2 separate regions of the Homo sapiens genome follow, and region 2 is linked to region 1. Evidence: fine-mapped expression QTL. Tissue or cell type: spinal cord. Region 1 holds a variant in brackets; the other region holds the start of a gene. All regions are shown on one strand. Distances are between the middles of the regions.

Evidence for each region. PIP is the estimated chance that this variant, and not a neighbour inherited with it, causes the effect.
Region 2: it holds the start of WDR27, and the variant in region 1 is fine-mapped to the expression of WDR27 in spinal cord (GTEx, PIP 0.95).

The regions. Positions count from the first base shown.
Region 1 is chr6:169,673,930-169,682,109 of GRCh38, reverse strand. All of the region lies in intron 2 of WDR27 (WD repeat domain 27), which reads left to right. Among named protein-coding and RNA genes, the nearest start is that of WDR27, 24 kb to the left of the region's middle. The variant C/T (reference allele first, on the strand shown) is at 4,883.
Region 2 is chr6:169,698,089-169,706,268 of GRCh38, reverse strand. It overlaps WDR27 (WD repeat domain 27), which reads left to right and starts at 4,240. Exons shown (of 26, transcript NM_182552.5): 1 at 4,240-4,718. C6orf120 (chromosome 6 open reading frame 120) reads right to left here and starts at 4,143. Exons shown (of 1, transcript NM_001029863.3): 1 at 1-4,143. The coding sequence starts at 3,809. The coding sequence ends at 3,234. It overlaps PHF10 (PHD finger protein 10), which reads left to right. Exons shown (of 12, transcript NM_018288.4): 10 at 545-653; 11 at 948-1,136; 12 at 2,181-2,367. The coding sequence ends at 2,266. RefSeq lists a silencer at 3,777-4,146 and enhancers at 4,197-4,286, 4,607-4,686.

The DNA of each region.
Region 1 (8,180 bases):
AGATTGGGCCCGTCTGGGATCTGCTGTGGGACAGAGGTTGGAGAGCCTGGTCACATTGATTCAGAGGGTTGCATGTCTCTGAGGAAGTCCCTGCAGAGATGAGATAGTTCCCCGATTTCAACAGGAGGAGTTGGAGCTGGGACTGGGCCCCCTTATGATCTGCTGTGGGTGGGAGACTAGAGAGGTCTAGTTGGCACAGAGGAGCATGCATCTCCTAGCAGGTCTCAGCACAGATGGGATAGTTCCCTGAGTGCAGCAGAAGAGCCCAGAGCTGAGATTGGGTACCCTCAGGATCTGTCATGGGAGGAAGTGTGGCGAGCCTGCCAGGGAGGGCTGAGACTCCCAGGTTGCAAGATACGGGCAAGTCTCCCTGTGGGTCTTTGTGTAAGCAGCTCTTACCTGGGACCTCAGATGAGGGAATTGGAGCGAAGCCACAGGGCAGCTTTCAGGTTCATTGCCTAGACCATTGTCAACAGGCAGATGAGCCCTTCCATCAGTTAGTAGAGTGTGTGATTCCTGCCAGACCCTTTGGCTGTTGGTTTTGTTTTCAGGCTCAAGGCCAAATGAGGTGGTAACCAAGCCCCTTGGAGGACTGGGCCATTTCTGGGCTTGAAGCTACGAGCACGCTTAGTGAATCAGCCACCTAGGTGTGGGTCTCAACTCTCAAAATGACCTTCTAAGATCTTGGCTCTGCTGGGGTTTCACAACTTCCACCTGAATTCTGAGGCTCTTGTAGAGAGACTTTGGACCATGGATGGGTGCAGAATTTTTGTTATTGTCGGGAGATATGAGTGGGTTAGCTTCTATTTCACCAGCTTGGTGATGTCCGATACTTACTCATTTTGTCTGGCTTTCTTCACTCAGGATAATTGAGATCCATGTTCCTGCATTCAGTAGTTCATTCTTCTTTATTATTGAGTAATATTCATTGTATGGATATACTATACTTTATGCATTCTCCTATTGGTGGGAATTTAGGTTATTTTTAGTTTTTGACTATTGCAAGTAACACTATTAGGAATAATTGTGTTTGTGTCTTTTGTTTTATAAATGTCAGTTAGGTTGAGGTGGCTAATAGTGTTCTTCAAGTCTTCTATATTCTTGAGGATTTCATGTCCAGTTGTTCAGTCAGTTATTGAAAGAGGCATATTGAAATCTGTGACTCTGTGAACTTATCTGTCTTCCATTAGTTTTTACTTTATGTATTTTGAAACTCTGTTATTAAGCACATATGTGTTTAGTATATTTTATGTCCTGTTGAACTGACTTCATTTATTATAAAGTGATACTGTTTTTTGATCCCTGGTAATATTCTTGCTCTGAAATCTTCTTTGGCTACTTTCTATTTTCGTTAATGTTAGCATTGTATCTCTTTCATTTCCTCTCTCACAACTTTTATGTTTTTGTTGTCATGCATTTTACTTTTGCATATGCTACAAACCTGACAATCCATTATTACTTTTGTTAAACATTCAGGGATCTTTTAAAGATATTTAAACAATAAGAAAAATATCTTCTTTTTTCTTTTGAGATGGAGTCTTGCTCTGTCACCCAGGCTGGAGTGCAGTGGCGCAATCTTGGCTCACTGCAAGCTCCGCCTCCCGGGTTCACGTCATTCTCCTGCCTCAGCCTCCCGAGTAGCTGGGACTACAGGCGGCCATCACCAAGCCCCGCTAATTTTTTGTATTTTTAGTAGAGACAGGGTTTCACCGTGTTAGCCAGGATGGTCTCGATCTCCTGACCTCGTGATACACCTGCCTCGGCCTCCCAAAGTACTTGGATTACAGGCGTGAGCCACTGCGCCTGGCCTTTTCTTTTTTAATTTTAAGGCTCTTAAATTTAAGAAGGAAAAATATCTTACACATCTACCCACGTAATTATATTTTTGGTGCTCTTCATTCCTTTGTGTACATGCATGTTTCCGTCTGGTAGCATTTTCCTTCTGCCTGAAGTATTTTATTTAACATATGTTTCAGTGCAAATATGGTGATAAATTATTTCAGCCTTTGTGTGTTTAAAAAAGTTTTTATTTTGCCTTGTTTTTGAAAGGCATTTATATTGAGTAGAGAATTCTAGTTTGACAGATTTTTCTTCAGGTTTTTAATATGTTGCTCTTCTATCATTTCAATGAGAATTCTGTTATTATCTTTATCTTTGTTCTCATGTATACAATGGGTTATATTTGTCTGGCTGCCTTTAAAACTTCCTATGTTACCAATTTTGAACAATTTGATCATGCTATGTTTTGGTGTATTTTTCTTCATATTTCTCATTCTTGCATGTATTAGGCCATTTCTGTATTGCTATAAAGAAATACCTGAGACTGGATAATTTATAAAGAAAAGAGATTTAATTGGCTCATGGTTCTGCAGACTGTACAAGCATGACACCAACGTCTGCTTTGCTTTTAATTAGGACTGCAGGAACCTTACAGTCATGGCAGAAGGTGAAGAGGGAGCAGGTACTTCACAGGGTGAAAACAGGAACAAGTGGTCAGGAGGAGGTGCCATACACTTTTAAATGACCAGATTTCATGAGAACTCACTCACTGTGGTGAGGACAGCATTAAGCCATGAGGGATCAGCCGGCATGACCCAAACACCTCCCACCAGACCCCACCTCCAACACTGGGGATTACATCTCCACATGAGATTTGCAGGGGACATGCAGACTATATCATTCTACTCCTGGTCCCCTACATTTTATGTCCTTCTCACATTGCAAAATATAATCATGTCTTTCCAACAGTCCCCCAAAGTCTTGTCGACGAAAAGAGTCAAACTTTGTAAAATATTTTAAGAGATTTATTTTGAGCCAAGTATGAGTGACCATGGCCTGTGACATAGCCCTCAGGAGGTCCTGAGAACGTGTGCCCAAGGTGGTCAGGGCACAGCTTCATTTTATATATTTCAGGGAGGCATGAGACATCAATCAAATACACTTAAGAAATACATTGATTTCATTCAGAAAGGCGAGACCACTCAAAGCGGGGGCTTCCAGGCTATAGGTAAATTTAAACATTTTCTGGTTGACAGTTGGTTGAGTTTATCTAAAGATCTGAGATCGATAGAAAGGAATGTTCAGGTTAAGCTAAAGGATTGTGGAGACCATGTTTTACTCTGCAGAGTAAGCTCTCAGATAGCAGACTTCAGAGAGAGCAGGTTGTAAATTGTTTCTTTTTGGACTTAAAAAGGGTGCCTGGCTCTTAGTTGATTATCTCCTGGATCTGGAAAGGAAGGAAGGAAAACAAAGGGAAAAGGGGTTTCTCTATAGAATGTGGATTTTTACCACAAGAGACTTTGCAGGACAATTTCAAGGTATGGCAAGGAAATATATTTTGAGGTAAAACATTTTGATTTTCTTCCTTGTTATGCCAGAGTCAGATTGGAAAGTCAGCCACGATAGAAAGGGTCAAATAAAACTCATCTGCTGAGAATTTATGGTTGGTAGGGCATGACTCCCCAGACCCCTTAGAAAGGAATTTGGGCAAGATAAAAAAAAATCAGAGCTTAATCCTCAGCCTTAACTTGTTCCAGCATCAACTCAATCAAAAGTCCCAAGTCCTAAGTCCAAAGTTTCATCTGAGACAAGGCAAGTTCCTTCCACCTATGAGCCTGTAAAATAAAAAACAAGTTATTTACTCCCAATATACAAAGGGATTATAGGCATTGGATAAACATTCCCATTTCCAAAGGGAGAAATTGGCCAAAAGAGAGGAGCTATAGGCCCCATGCAAGTCTGAAACCCAGCAGGACAGTCATTAAATCATAAAGCTCCAAAATTATCTCTATTGACTCTGTGTCCCACATCCAGAGCACACTGGTACAAGGGGTGGACTCCCAAGGCCTGGGGCAGCTCTGTCCCTGTGGCTTTGCAAGGTTCAGCCCTTGTGGCTGCTTTCACTGGTTGCTGAGTGCCTACGGCTTTTCTAGGAGCAGGGTGTAAGCTGCTGGAATATCTGCCATCCTGGGGTCTGGATGATGGTGCCCCTCTTCTCACAGCTCTAGTAGGCAGTGCCTCAGTGGGGACTCTGTGTGGGGGCTCCAACTCCACATTTCCCCTTGGCATTGGCACTGCCCTAGTAGAAGCTCTCTGTGAAGGCTCCACTCCTGCAGCAGGCTTCTGCCTTGGCACCCAGGCATTCTCACAAATCCTCTGAAACCTAGCTGGAGGCTGCTAAGCCTCCTTTACTCTTGTACTCTGTGCACCCGCAGGCTTAATACCACATGGAAACCACCAAGGCCTGTGGCTTGCACCCTCTGAAACAGCAGCCCAAGCTGTATCTGGGGTCCTCTGAGCTGAGGCCAGAGCTGGAGACGGGAGCAGTGTCCTGAGGCTGTGTGGGGCAGCAGGCCCTGGCCGTCAAAACCATTCTTTCCTCCTAGACTTCAGGGCCTGTAATGGGAGGGACTGCCTTGGAGATATCTGGAATGTCTTGGAGGCCTTTCCCATTGCCTTGGTTATCAGCCTTTGGTTCTTTTTTTAGTTACACAAATATCTTAAGTAAATGGTTGCTCCACAGCCTGCTTGAATTCCTCTCACCAAAAACAGTTACTTTTTGCCACATGGCTGGGCTGCAAATTTTCTGAACTTTTATGCTCTGCTTTCCTTTTAAATATAAATTCCAACTGTATGGCATTTCTTTGCTCCCATTTATGATTGTATGTTGTTAGAAGCATCCAGGAGACATCTTACATGCTTTGCTGATTAGAAATTTCTTCCTTCAGGTACACTAGGCCATCACTCAAGTTTAAGCTTCCACAGAGCCCTAGGGCATGAACAGAATGTAGCCAAGCTCTTTGCTGTGGCATAACAAGAGTGACCTTTGCTCCAGTTCCCAGCAAGTTCATTTCCATCTGAGACTTCCTCAGCCTAGACTTCA[C/T]TGTCTTTACCACTATCAGTGTTTTGGTCACAGTCATTTAACTGGTATCTAAGAAGTTCCAAAGTTTCCCTCAGCATCTCGTCTTCCTCTGAGCCCTCCAAACTCTTCCAACTTCTGCTGGTTACTCAGGTCCAAAGCCACTTCCACGTTTTTAGGTATCTTTATAGCAGTGCCCCACTTCTTGGTACCAATTTTCTGTATTAGGCCTTTCATGAATTGCTATGTCAATGAAAGCATCAAAGTCTGTAAAATATTTGAAGAGATTTATTCTGAGTCAACTACGAGCGACCAGAGGCCCAAGGCACAGTCTTGAGGTCCTGAGAACATGTGCGTGATGGTCAGGCTACAGCTTGGATTTATACAATTTAGGGAGACATAAGACATCAATCAATACATGTAATATGTACATTGCTTAGGTCCAGAAAGGTGGGACAGTTCAAAGTGGGGGCTTCCAGGTCATAGGTGGATTCGATAATTTTCTAAATTGCAATTGGTTGAAAGTGTTAAGTTATTGTCTAAAGACCTAGACTCAATAGAAGGAATGTCTGGGTTAAGATAACGGATCGTGGAGACCAAGGTCCCCAATATACATAAGAAGCCTCCAGGTGGCAGGCTTCAGAGAGAATAGATTGTAAATATTTATTAGACTTAAAAAGTGCCAGAGTCTTAGTGGTTACTCTTCTGGATCAGGAAAAAGGCCTACAAAGGAAAGGGGATCTTCTGCAGAATGTAGATTTTCCCCACAAGAGACAGCTTCGCAGGCCTATGTCAAGATATGGTAAAGAAACATAATTGGAGTTAACATATTTTAATTCCCTTCTTTATCTGTCATGTGATGTTATGCCAGAGTTAGGTTGGAAAGTAAGCCACGTTATATAGGGTTAAATAAAATCCTCTGATGAGACTTTATGGTTTTTAGTGTGTGAATCCTTAAGCCCCTTAGATAGGAATTTGGACAGGAGAAGAAAAAGGTCAGAGTTTAGTCCTGAGTATAACAAAATACCTGAGACTGGGTAATTTATAAAGAAAAGAGATTTAATTGGCTCATGGTTCTGCAGGCTGCACAAGTGAGGACTAAACTCTGATTTTTTATCTTGCCCAAATTCCTACCTAAGGGGCCTAGGGAGTCATGCCCTACAAACCATAAATTCTGATTAGATGGGTTTTATTTGACCCCGTATATCATGACTTACTTTTCAGTCTGACTCTGGCATAACATTATGAGATAAGGAAAAAATATTCAACCCCAAAATATATTTCCTTGCCATACCTTGAAATTGCCTTGCAAAGTCTCTTGTGGAAAAATCCATATTCTATAGAGAATCCCCTTTTCCCTTTGTTTTCCTTCATTCCTTCCCAGATCCAGGAGATAATTGAGTAAGAGCCAAGTACCCTTTTAAGTCCGATAAGAAAAATTTTACAGCCTGCAGTCTCTGAAGTCTATCTGAGAGCTTCCTCTGCACAATAAAACATGGTATCCACAATCCTTTATCTTAACCTGAATATTCCTATCGATCTCAGATCTTTAGATAAACAACCAATTGTCAACCAGAAAATGTTTAAATTTACCTATAGCCTGGAAGCCCCCGCTTTGAGTTGTCCCGCCTTTCTGAACGAAACCAATGTATTTCTTAAGTGTATTTGATTGATGTCTCATGCCTCCCTAAAGTACATAAAACCAAGCTGTACCCCAACCACCTTGGGTACATGTTCTCAGGACCTCCTGAGGGCTGTGTCATGGACCATGGTCACTCATATTTGGTTCAGAATAAATCTCTTAAAATATTTTACAAAGTTCGACTCTTTTGTCGACACAAGCATGGCACCAACAAATGCTTGGCTTCTGGTGAGGGCCTCAGGAACCTTACAATCATGGTGGAAGGCAAAGGGAAAACAGGCATGTCATATGGCAAAAACAGGAGCAAGGCATGGGGGGAGGTACCACACACTTTTAAATGATCAGATCTCATGAGAACTCACCATGGTGAGGATGGCACCATGCCATGAGGGATCTGCCCCCATGACCCATACACCTCCCAGCAGGCCCTACCGCCAACACTGGGGATTACATCTCAACGTGGGATTTGGAGGGTGTCAGGCCTCTGAGCCCAAGCTCGGCCATCATATCCCCTGTGACCTGCATGTACACATCCAGATGGCTGGTTCCTGCCTTAACTGATGACATTCCACCACAAAAGAAGTGAAAATGGCCTGTTCCCGCCTTAACTGATGACATTGTCTTGTGAAATTCCTTCTCCTGGCTCATCCTGGCTCAAAAGCTCCCCCACTGAGTACTTTGTGACCCCTACTCCTGCCCGCCAGAGAACAACTCCCCTTTTTCCTTTACCTACCCAAATCCTATAAAACCCCACCCCATTGCCCTTTGCTAACTCTCTTTTCGGACTCAGCCCGCCTGCACCCAGGTGATTAAAAGCTTTATTGCTCACACAAAGCCTGTTTGGTGGTCTCTTCACATGGACGCGCATGAAAGAGGGGACATCCAAACTTTATCATTGGGGTTCTACGGGTTTATGGTTTTCATCAAAATTTGGAAAATTTTCAGCCATTATTTCTTCAAATATTCCCCTCCTCCCAAACGTTGTGGACCCTGCTTACATGTATGTCAGGTCACGTGAAGTTTCCCACAGCTCACTGATACTCTTTCATGGTTATGAATGTATTTTTTCTCTCTTTCATTTTTATATAGCTTCTATTGCTTTGTCTTTAAATTTACCAATCTTTTCCTCAGCAACATCTAATATGCAGTTAATCCCACTAAGTGTTTTTTAAAATTTTATCTTATTCTAGTTTTCATCTCCAGAAGTTAGGTTTGGGACTTTTAAATATCTTCTATGCCTCTACTTAACTTTTGAACATATGGAAAATGTTTTAATAATGGTTTGAATGTTCTTGTCTAGTAATTCTAACATTTGGATCAGTTTTAGTTTGGTTTCAAGTCTTATCTGGATGACTTGTAGGCATCGCATTTCTCTATTCTTTATTTTTCTTTGTTTTTGACTAAATGGTCTTGTCTCCTTGAATACCTGGTTGTTTTTTAGATTGCTGGATTTTGTATATGAAAAAAAAGTATAGCTGATTTGATACTCTGGATTCTTACATTCTTCCAAATCAGATTTATGTTAGCTTCTGGTAGCCAGTCATGCTCAGGGCACTGGCAGTCCTAGATTACCCTAAGCCAGTCAGGTGTTAAGTCAATTCATAACTGGGTGTCAGTTCTTATGAGGGTTGTTTTATTTCCAGTTCATCTTTACTCCTTGGGTTTTGTCTTTTTTGGGGT
Region 2 (8,180 bases), 24 kb before region 1:
GCATGAGACATCTTTCAATTAAAAATGTTTAAACTGATTTTTTTTTAAATACCACTATACCAATGAGGATAAGCTGATTTTTTAACTTAGATTTTATAGCTCTAGTTTTGCAGTTTTGGAAAATAGCAGGTTTTAAACAAAATTAATATATGAGCTATTTAAAATGGTCTTTTTAGAGTAAGTCTTACACATAATGGTCATTTGCTACTTGGATTTTCTTGTCCAATTAATAGTGACATTTGACATTGTATTTAGTCTTTCCTTCCATTCATTAAACAAATCTTACTGTGCATGTAGGGAGTATAGAATGCTACATTTAATCTTACGAGATCATGCTGTTTACCAAATTTTATGATGAAATTAATGCTTTCTTCAGTAGGCAGTCTTACATTGTAGGCAGACTCCTGTCAAGTTTTGTCTTTCAAAATGGTCCTCATTAGCAAGTTACCAAAAGTAAAAATAGGGCAATAAAGTAACAGAATTCCTTTTAAACCCATAGTAAGCTCTTCTGGCATGAATTTATAGCCCTCTTCTACCCTTCCAGCCAAAGGTCATTCCAAATGCTATATGTGGAATTTGTCTGAAGGGTAAGGAGTCCAACAAGAAAGGAAAGGCTGAATCACTTATACACTGCTCCCAATGTGAGAATAGTGGTAAGTATTGAAATGTCTTTTTAAAATTTTAACCACCGTATTTATTGGTTCAAAAACTAGAATTTATAGTTTCAGGCAGATTTCAACCAAAGAGTCACCAAATTAAATACACAGGGTAGCTTGTGAGGCATAGACACAGCCCATGTGTTTTCCTCTACATTGTATATTCATTTCTCTTTGGCGATTTGACATTATAGCCATTCTCTGGAAGTCCTAAAGCAAACTAGTATTTTATGTGCCATATTAAGTTAAAATTTCTTATGTGAGATACCACTAATACTGGTTTTGATTTAGGCCATCCTTCTTGCCTGGATATGACAATGGAGCTTGTTTCTATGATTAAGACCTACCCATGGCAGTGTATGGAATGTAAAACATGCATTATATGTGGACAACCCCACCATGAAGAAGAAATGATGTTCTGTGATATGTGTGACAGAGGTTATCATACTTTTTGTGTGGGCCTTGGTGCTATTCCATCAGGTAAAGATTAAAAAAAGAGCAAACATTATCTTTGGGTGATGAGACTCTCCCAGCACTCCAAAAGGCTGCATAAACGCTATCATGACATGAAGAGCTTGTGGACTCTTATGTGCAAATATGACCAAAGCTGTGATTATACAGGTCATGTCCACCAGCTTTTCATCCCTAGACAATTCCAACTAAAGGATAAGTGAAAGGCCAGAATGCCCCTGCTAAGTTTTGGAAGTATAGTTCTATAGAATGAGCTGGTGTTTTTCTACTGAAATACTAAAGTAACAAAGCCTTTATTTTTATATGTTATCTATTTAGAAACAACAAAATGACTGCTACGTCTTTATACATTTCTATAGAAATCTATTATAGATTTCTGTAAATTGAGGCAGCATGACAATTCCAGATAACTTTAGAACAGAGTTGAATAAATCACAGTAATTGGACTAAAACATTACACAGATAATTGTGTAATTTTAGAACTTACTTGCATAGTTAACACTGTATAATACTCTTATAAAATATATGCCTACAACGAAGTTTCCTGGGAATCATTAAGCAAGCAACATAATTATTTTTCTGTAGTAATTCAGATCAAGTATGTAGTACAAGTTATCATTGTGCTGTTAAAGTTTTAAAGTGCTGTCAGCAGAGTACACCAGGACTTGAAAGAATGCTGTTAAGACACACAGCTGCCAGTGAGCAGGAGAGAAAAAGTCTTAAAAAAGCCAAATTCCGGAATGGGTTTTGACCTTTTGAAGTATGATAGTGTTTGAATTTCAGGAAAGATTGTACTTTCTTAAAGGTCCGTATCACCGTATGGCATTGCATCTCTCCCATCCCCCTTGACTTGCAATGAATTTTGCATGGCATTGATTACATTGATTAAGTTTACATTTTTTCCTTAAATTAAGGAACTCATAGTGCCCTTCTCACCACAAAATCCAGAGAGGAATATCATTAGTGATAGCTAAGGCAGAAGAGTTTAGATGGGCTTAAAATTCAGTCCTGTAAAGATAATTTTTCATTCTATATTAACAATTTTTTTCCTAGGTCGCTGGATTTGTGACTGTTGTCAGCGGGCCCCCCCAACACCCAGGAAAGTGGGCAGAAGGGGGAAAAACAGCAAAGAGGGATAAAATAGTTTTTGACTCTAATACTGTATATGCATTTAAGTGGAATATTTGGTGCCATTTACAACATTATTTTCATGCCAATAAAAGATTTTTTTTGCAAATTATGAGCTTAAAATCTGCAGTTATTTCTGTTAAAAGCTACGCTTACTCTCGAAACTAACTCCAGGTAGAGAATTCATCTTCCAAAGTATTTTATAGTAACCTTGGCTCACTCCAAAAATTCAGTGGAAATGTTTAGTAACTTAAGATACTTAACTGTTTCTCCATAGCCCCAAAAGTTAATTTTCATGAAACTTCCTAATCTACATTGTTTCCGGCCTACCATAGGTAGCACTGACAAAGTTATTTAATAACTGAAGAATTTTCATAGGTATGACAAATGGCCCACTAAGATTTGGTGCAGCTGGATTTAGAGTTGTCATTATTGGACTGGTACAGGAACAAACTTTGTAAATACCTGCCTGCCAGGAAATCCTTTTTGTATAGAAAAGTACCATCACCTACTTGGGGTACAGGCATGAGGCTTTAGTCCAGGCTCAGGGAAGTGTACGTAAATCATTTCCAACTTGATTTTAGTAACTCTTGAAAACTTACACCAACTTCGGTTAGAATCTCCAGAGTAAAATTACAAAGTTATCAACCTTTTGATTTGTGTCACAGCATGAAAGGTTGCTCTATTTTATATAAACCTGTTACTGCAATCATTTTTAGTCAACCTGCCTAATGAAAATGGAGTCTAAACACTTTGTGCACAGTCCTTTTATAGGAATTATGATCTTTAAAATACTGTGCTTGCTGCTTTTCCTATTTTTGGGGTAACTGAGGTAACAAAACTGCGTATGGCTTTATTTTTCCATCCCTTGACTAAAGGTACCTAGAACTTCAACCAAGTACAAGTAGCAAGGTTCACAGCAAACTGCAATCAGCTTCACAGATGGAGGGTTTTATATCCCAGAGTGTGGTCAACGACTCAAAAGAGAATTTCAAGTACCAGTTTCAAAATGCTAATTAATATCGTCCAGAGAACAGATTCCTCCTCTTGCGAGGCGTCTTCCGGGGCACCAGCGTGCTTCTGGCCGGCATCTGCGCCGTCGGCGGGGTAGGCGGCCTCGCCGAACGGGTGCTGCTCGACCGTGCCGTCGTAGTACACCTTCATCTCGAACTCGCTCTCCAGGTGGGAGGGGTGTCCATAGACGCCGATGCCCACTGGGCGCCGGAAGTGCGCGGGGATGGACACGGCGTCCGGGCCGCAGGTGGCCGATTGCAGCTCGTAGTCGTCGAAGCTGGGGTGCAGGCTGCTGGCGGAGACGTACAGATCCGCATCTCCCTTGAGGCTGCGCATCCTGAGGACTATCTTGCCCTCGTGGTTCAGCCGCAGGTAGCTGTAGTTCCCGGCGCCTATCTGGCCCTGGACGACGTGCAGGAGCACCCACTCCTCGGGGACCTCCTCCTCGTCCGCGCAGCTTCCCGGAGACAGGACCTGCGAGGCTAGGAGCAGCAGCAGGGCCGTCGTCCAGGGCGCGGCCCTCCCGCGGGGAGCGGCCATGGCTGGCGGCTCAGCTCCGGGGCCTGCAAGTGGGTCAGTGCTGCTGGGGACACCGGAGGCGCTCAGCACCGGAGCCTGTCCCCGCCGTCCGCACGCGGGTCCACGGCGCGTCCAGGCGCCTGGTCTGTCGCTGGGACTGTCCCTTCCCACCCGCGTGAGGCCCCGGGGAGGAGGGGTGGGTTAACCCCTCCCCCGTAGCGCGGCGCCCACTCAGGGCAGGGGCAGGGGCAGGGGCAGGGCCGCTGTGGCACCCTCGGACTCACCACCACTCCCCGCAGGGGGCCGCGCTTTATACATCCGGACCCGAGGCCGGAGCCTCGCCGGAGGCGGAAGTGACGCTAGGTCCGTAAGTGAGCCGGCCGGAAGCGAGGCTTCTCCAGCTGTCGCGAGATAGCGAAAGGGGCGTGGGCGCGAGGGGCGGCGGGCTAGTAACCATAGCGGCTCGCGTGGGTCGGCTGGCAAGTAACCATAGCGGCGAGCGTGGGGCGGAGTGTGGCTCGGTAGTCCTCTGCGTGCCCTCCTGGGAGCTGGGTGCTGTGAGTCCTCCCCTAGCGGGCTGGTCTCGGCGCGGAGTCGGCGCCGAACCCGAGCTGCTGCTCTGGGGCGTGTGCCTAGGGCGCAGGGCTGGAGCGCGGGGGCTGCGCGGTTGCTCGCGGCTCCGCTGAGGTCTCTAGGAAAGGGGGCGATTTGAGGGTTCCGCCGTGACCGCTTCCAACGGCGGACACGCGCGCTCTGGACCAGAGCCGTTGCCCGCTGTCTCGTCACCCGAAGCCTCCTCCTGACGCCGTGCTAGTGCGAGGGTCTCCAGGGGAATTCGGGGCACAAGTCGGGCCGGAGCATCCGGGCGGCCGCTTGAGATCGGCGCTTTGAGAACTGAGCGCATGTGGAGTTCGGAGGAAAAGGGCTCAGGTGGTTATTTTAATTAAAGCAGCTGTGTATAAGGAGCACTCAGATCTCTTTAAAAGATTCAGTAGTTTAGGAACGAACCAGGGCTGTAGAAATGCCCGGCCTCCTGCACCTCCCGTCGGTTCTGAGCTCCGAGGGCGGGAGCGTGGACCCTGAGGGCTCGTTAATTATGCCCCACTGGCCTTTCAACCTGCGTGGTAACTACCAGGCTAGGTTTTCCTAACTCGAGCCAAACAGCAAGTTTCTGACTTGATTATCACTAAAAGAGAAAAATTTCGATCTTTTCTAATCAGAAGGGAGTAATTTTCTCTTTTTAAAAATATTCGTATGTACATTAAAAAAACGGAAATGCACAGGATTTTATCAGTGGTACTCCTCGAGTAGTAGAGTTTTCATCTTTTTATGTATTTCTAAATTTTCTACAATTTACACACACTGCTCTGTACCAGTAAAGGAGTATTAACTCTACAGCTTCCAGTTTATCTGGGATTACTATCTTGTGTTTACTGACTTAACTTTAAGACTATGGTATCTTTAGCAATCACTTGTCACTGCCTTTTCCTGAAGTGCTTACCTAGTGTTAGGTGCACTAGAATCTCACTAAAATAATAAATTTAGTTTATTTTCCCTGACTTGTTCTGTGCATGTATGTACATGGATATTCCTGGGGATATCCTGTGACATTGATTATCCCCTAGGGTTGGCACAGCAGGGAGAGGAGGTAGGGATAAAAAACTTTATTATTTCTGCATTGTTTAAATGTTTTGTATTGTATTGCTTTTGTAATTCAAAAAAATGTTAAACAATTTATATTAGTGGAGGTAGGTTAAGTGCTGTAGCAATTCACCCCAATAGAACAGTTGCATGTTTCTTGCTCACACAGTCCTGTGTAGCGGTTTCTAGTCAGACGATTCCTTTGGGCAGCTCTCTGCAAGCTGCAGCCTAAAATTCTTCCATGTTGTGGTTTTTTTCCTTAGGCCCTCTGAATTCTCCGCATTTAGCCAGTGGGTGGGGAAAGAAGAGAGGCAGTGCAGGAGGAATTTATGGGCCAGGCACTCAACGACTACATGGCTGCACTTAATTGCAAGGGAAGCTAGGGAGTGTAGTTTAGTTCTGTGTCTAGAAGGAAAGGGAAGTGGCTTAGTGGAAAAGGAACAGCACTTACCGTAGTCTCTCTTCTGGTGACCAGATCTCTGCTCCACTCTTGATCCCACATGGAGAACACACTCTCCCCACCCCAAGGGGGACACTTTGTCAAGGTGCCTAGTGCAACACAGAACATTTCTCAGGATTGCACAGTTCTCTCCATCAGGCCTGGCTGTGGTTCCTCGTGGTCCAGAGCCCTATGGACTAAGAAGACAAACTAGTTGCTCTCCCCACTAAAATGCAGTGGTTAAATATGACCATGGTTTTTGTAACCATCTCCCTTTTGGAAAAGGGAGACACATGGCAGACACTGGTCTATAGCAGTTTTGAAGTGATGCTGGGGTGGAGGTGGGAGGAATTTCCCAACTAGACCCTGATTCTGCTATCTGGGAGGAATTCCCTTGTCCATTGTTCTTTTTCTTTCCTTTGAGACAGGATGTCACTGTTGTCCAGGTTGAAGTAGAGTGGCACAATCACAGCTCACTATAGCTTCAACCTCCGTGGCTCAAACGATCCTCCCACCTCAGCCTCCCCAGCAGCTGGGGCTACAAGCATGCACTGCCACACCTGACTACTTTTTTTTTTTAAAGTAGAGACAGGGTCTCACTATGTTGCCCAGGCTGGTCTTGAACTCCTGGGCTCAAGTGATCCTTCTGCCTCGGCCCCACAAAGTGCTGGGATTGCAGATGTGAGCCACTGTGCCTGGCTTGTTTGCTGAGGCCCTTGATTCTACCCTTAGTCCTTTTCCTCCACGGTCTCATCTGATGTGGCTATGAGGATGCTGTCTTGGAAGGCTGCCATAGCTCACTCCTGGAGCATGGCAGTGGGGACCAGGCAGTCAGCCCTGAGCCCACCGTGTGCCCTTACTCTGTTCTTTGCTTGATACTTCTTAGGCTTCATCGTGTCCTCACGAGCACAGCAGCTTCTGGTCTGTGTGTATCTCGTCAGCTCTGTGTGCTGGTGATGCCATTGTCGTTCTTCCTGTGTCTACTGTTCAAGCCTGACTTTATTTTCTTTTGGTCTCCTGGGCAGCTGATACCCTGAGGTTATGTGGAACAAAGGCTTGAGTGGGAAGGTAGCCATCCTAGGTCAGATCTTTGCTGAAGGGCCAAGACCTGATGGTCCTTTGTCCCTCCCTGCAGCCTCTCAGGGCACTCAGGTTTCCCAGTGCTGCAGCCCCTGCTCTTCGTACTTTCTTTTCGTGTCCATTCCGCTTGCACACCAGCCAGTTCTCTAGTCCAATTCCGTGTGTTGGCTGCTAATGCGTATTCTTTGCAATAATTTCCTGTAGGGCTGCAGGAGAGTAAGCCTGTGGTAAGTTTTCTGCGTTATTACAGGTTGTTGCAGTTGAACCTGTTTGTCACTGCCTAACGTGAGTCTTGAGCTTTTCCCCTCCTGAATTTGTTTCTGTGCCCCATCACTCAGTCACTCAGCAACATCCTACAGTGTCACTGAAGCATCCTGCTTCAAGGTACCCACATCAGTCAAGGTAGGCTGACAGAAGTGACCTCAGCTTCATGCACTAAATGTTTCTCTCTTGCTTACACAACAGTCCAGCCTGGTGTCCTGATCACCCTTTAGTGGGAGCAGCACAGGCTGCCAGGTGCCACCACCGTGGCCCCTCTCCTCAGCCTTTGGAGCCCTCCGCCTCCAGCATGAAGGGCTGTGCACGGGCTGTGACAGGACCAAGCCTGTGCATGCATGGTGTGCTTTCCAGACCAGAAATTGGTGCACGGCTGCCCTCGACTTCAGAGGCTGGAAATGTGGTCCAGCCATGTTCTTAGTGGCTCCAGGGAAGAAGCAGAAAGAGCTTGGGGAAAACTGCCAGACCACAGAAATAGAAAAATGAATATTTTAACATATAGAAAAATAACTTTTTACACAAATGATTTTAGGGGCCATCTGACCTCTGTTCAATGGGAGGATAGGTTGCACTTCAGTTAGCTGCCCTGGACTCATGTTCTCGACGTGGACACGTGTGTGTATGTGTGTGTGTGTGTCGGTGTGTCCCTGACGATGTTTCTGCCTGCACCAGACCCTCCCTCATCCCTGTCTGTACCACCCTGCCATGGAGCAGGAGAGGCAGGAGAGGTAGGCATTAAAGCCGAGTACACTGAGGCAGAGGTAGGCATTGAAGCCGAATACACTGAGGCAGAGGTAGGCATTGAAGCTGAGAACACTGAGGAACAGAGGTGTTGGGCAGCTGGAGAGGTGGGACATCAGCTCGTGCACACTGGGGCCAGACTGACCCAGAAATTCTGAGTGCAGGCTGGTGCTTCCTCGTCAAGGTGGCTTATGTGTCCTGACAAGGCTTCCTTC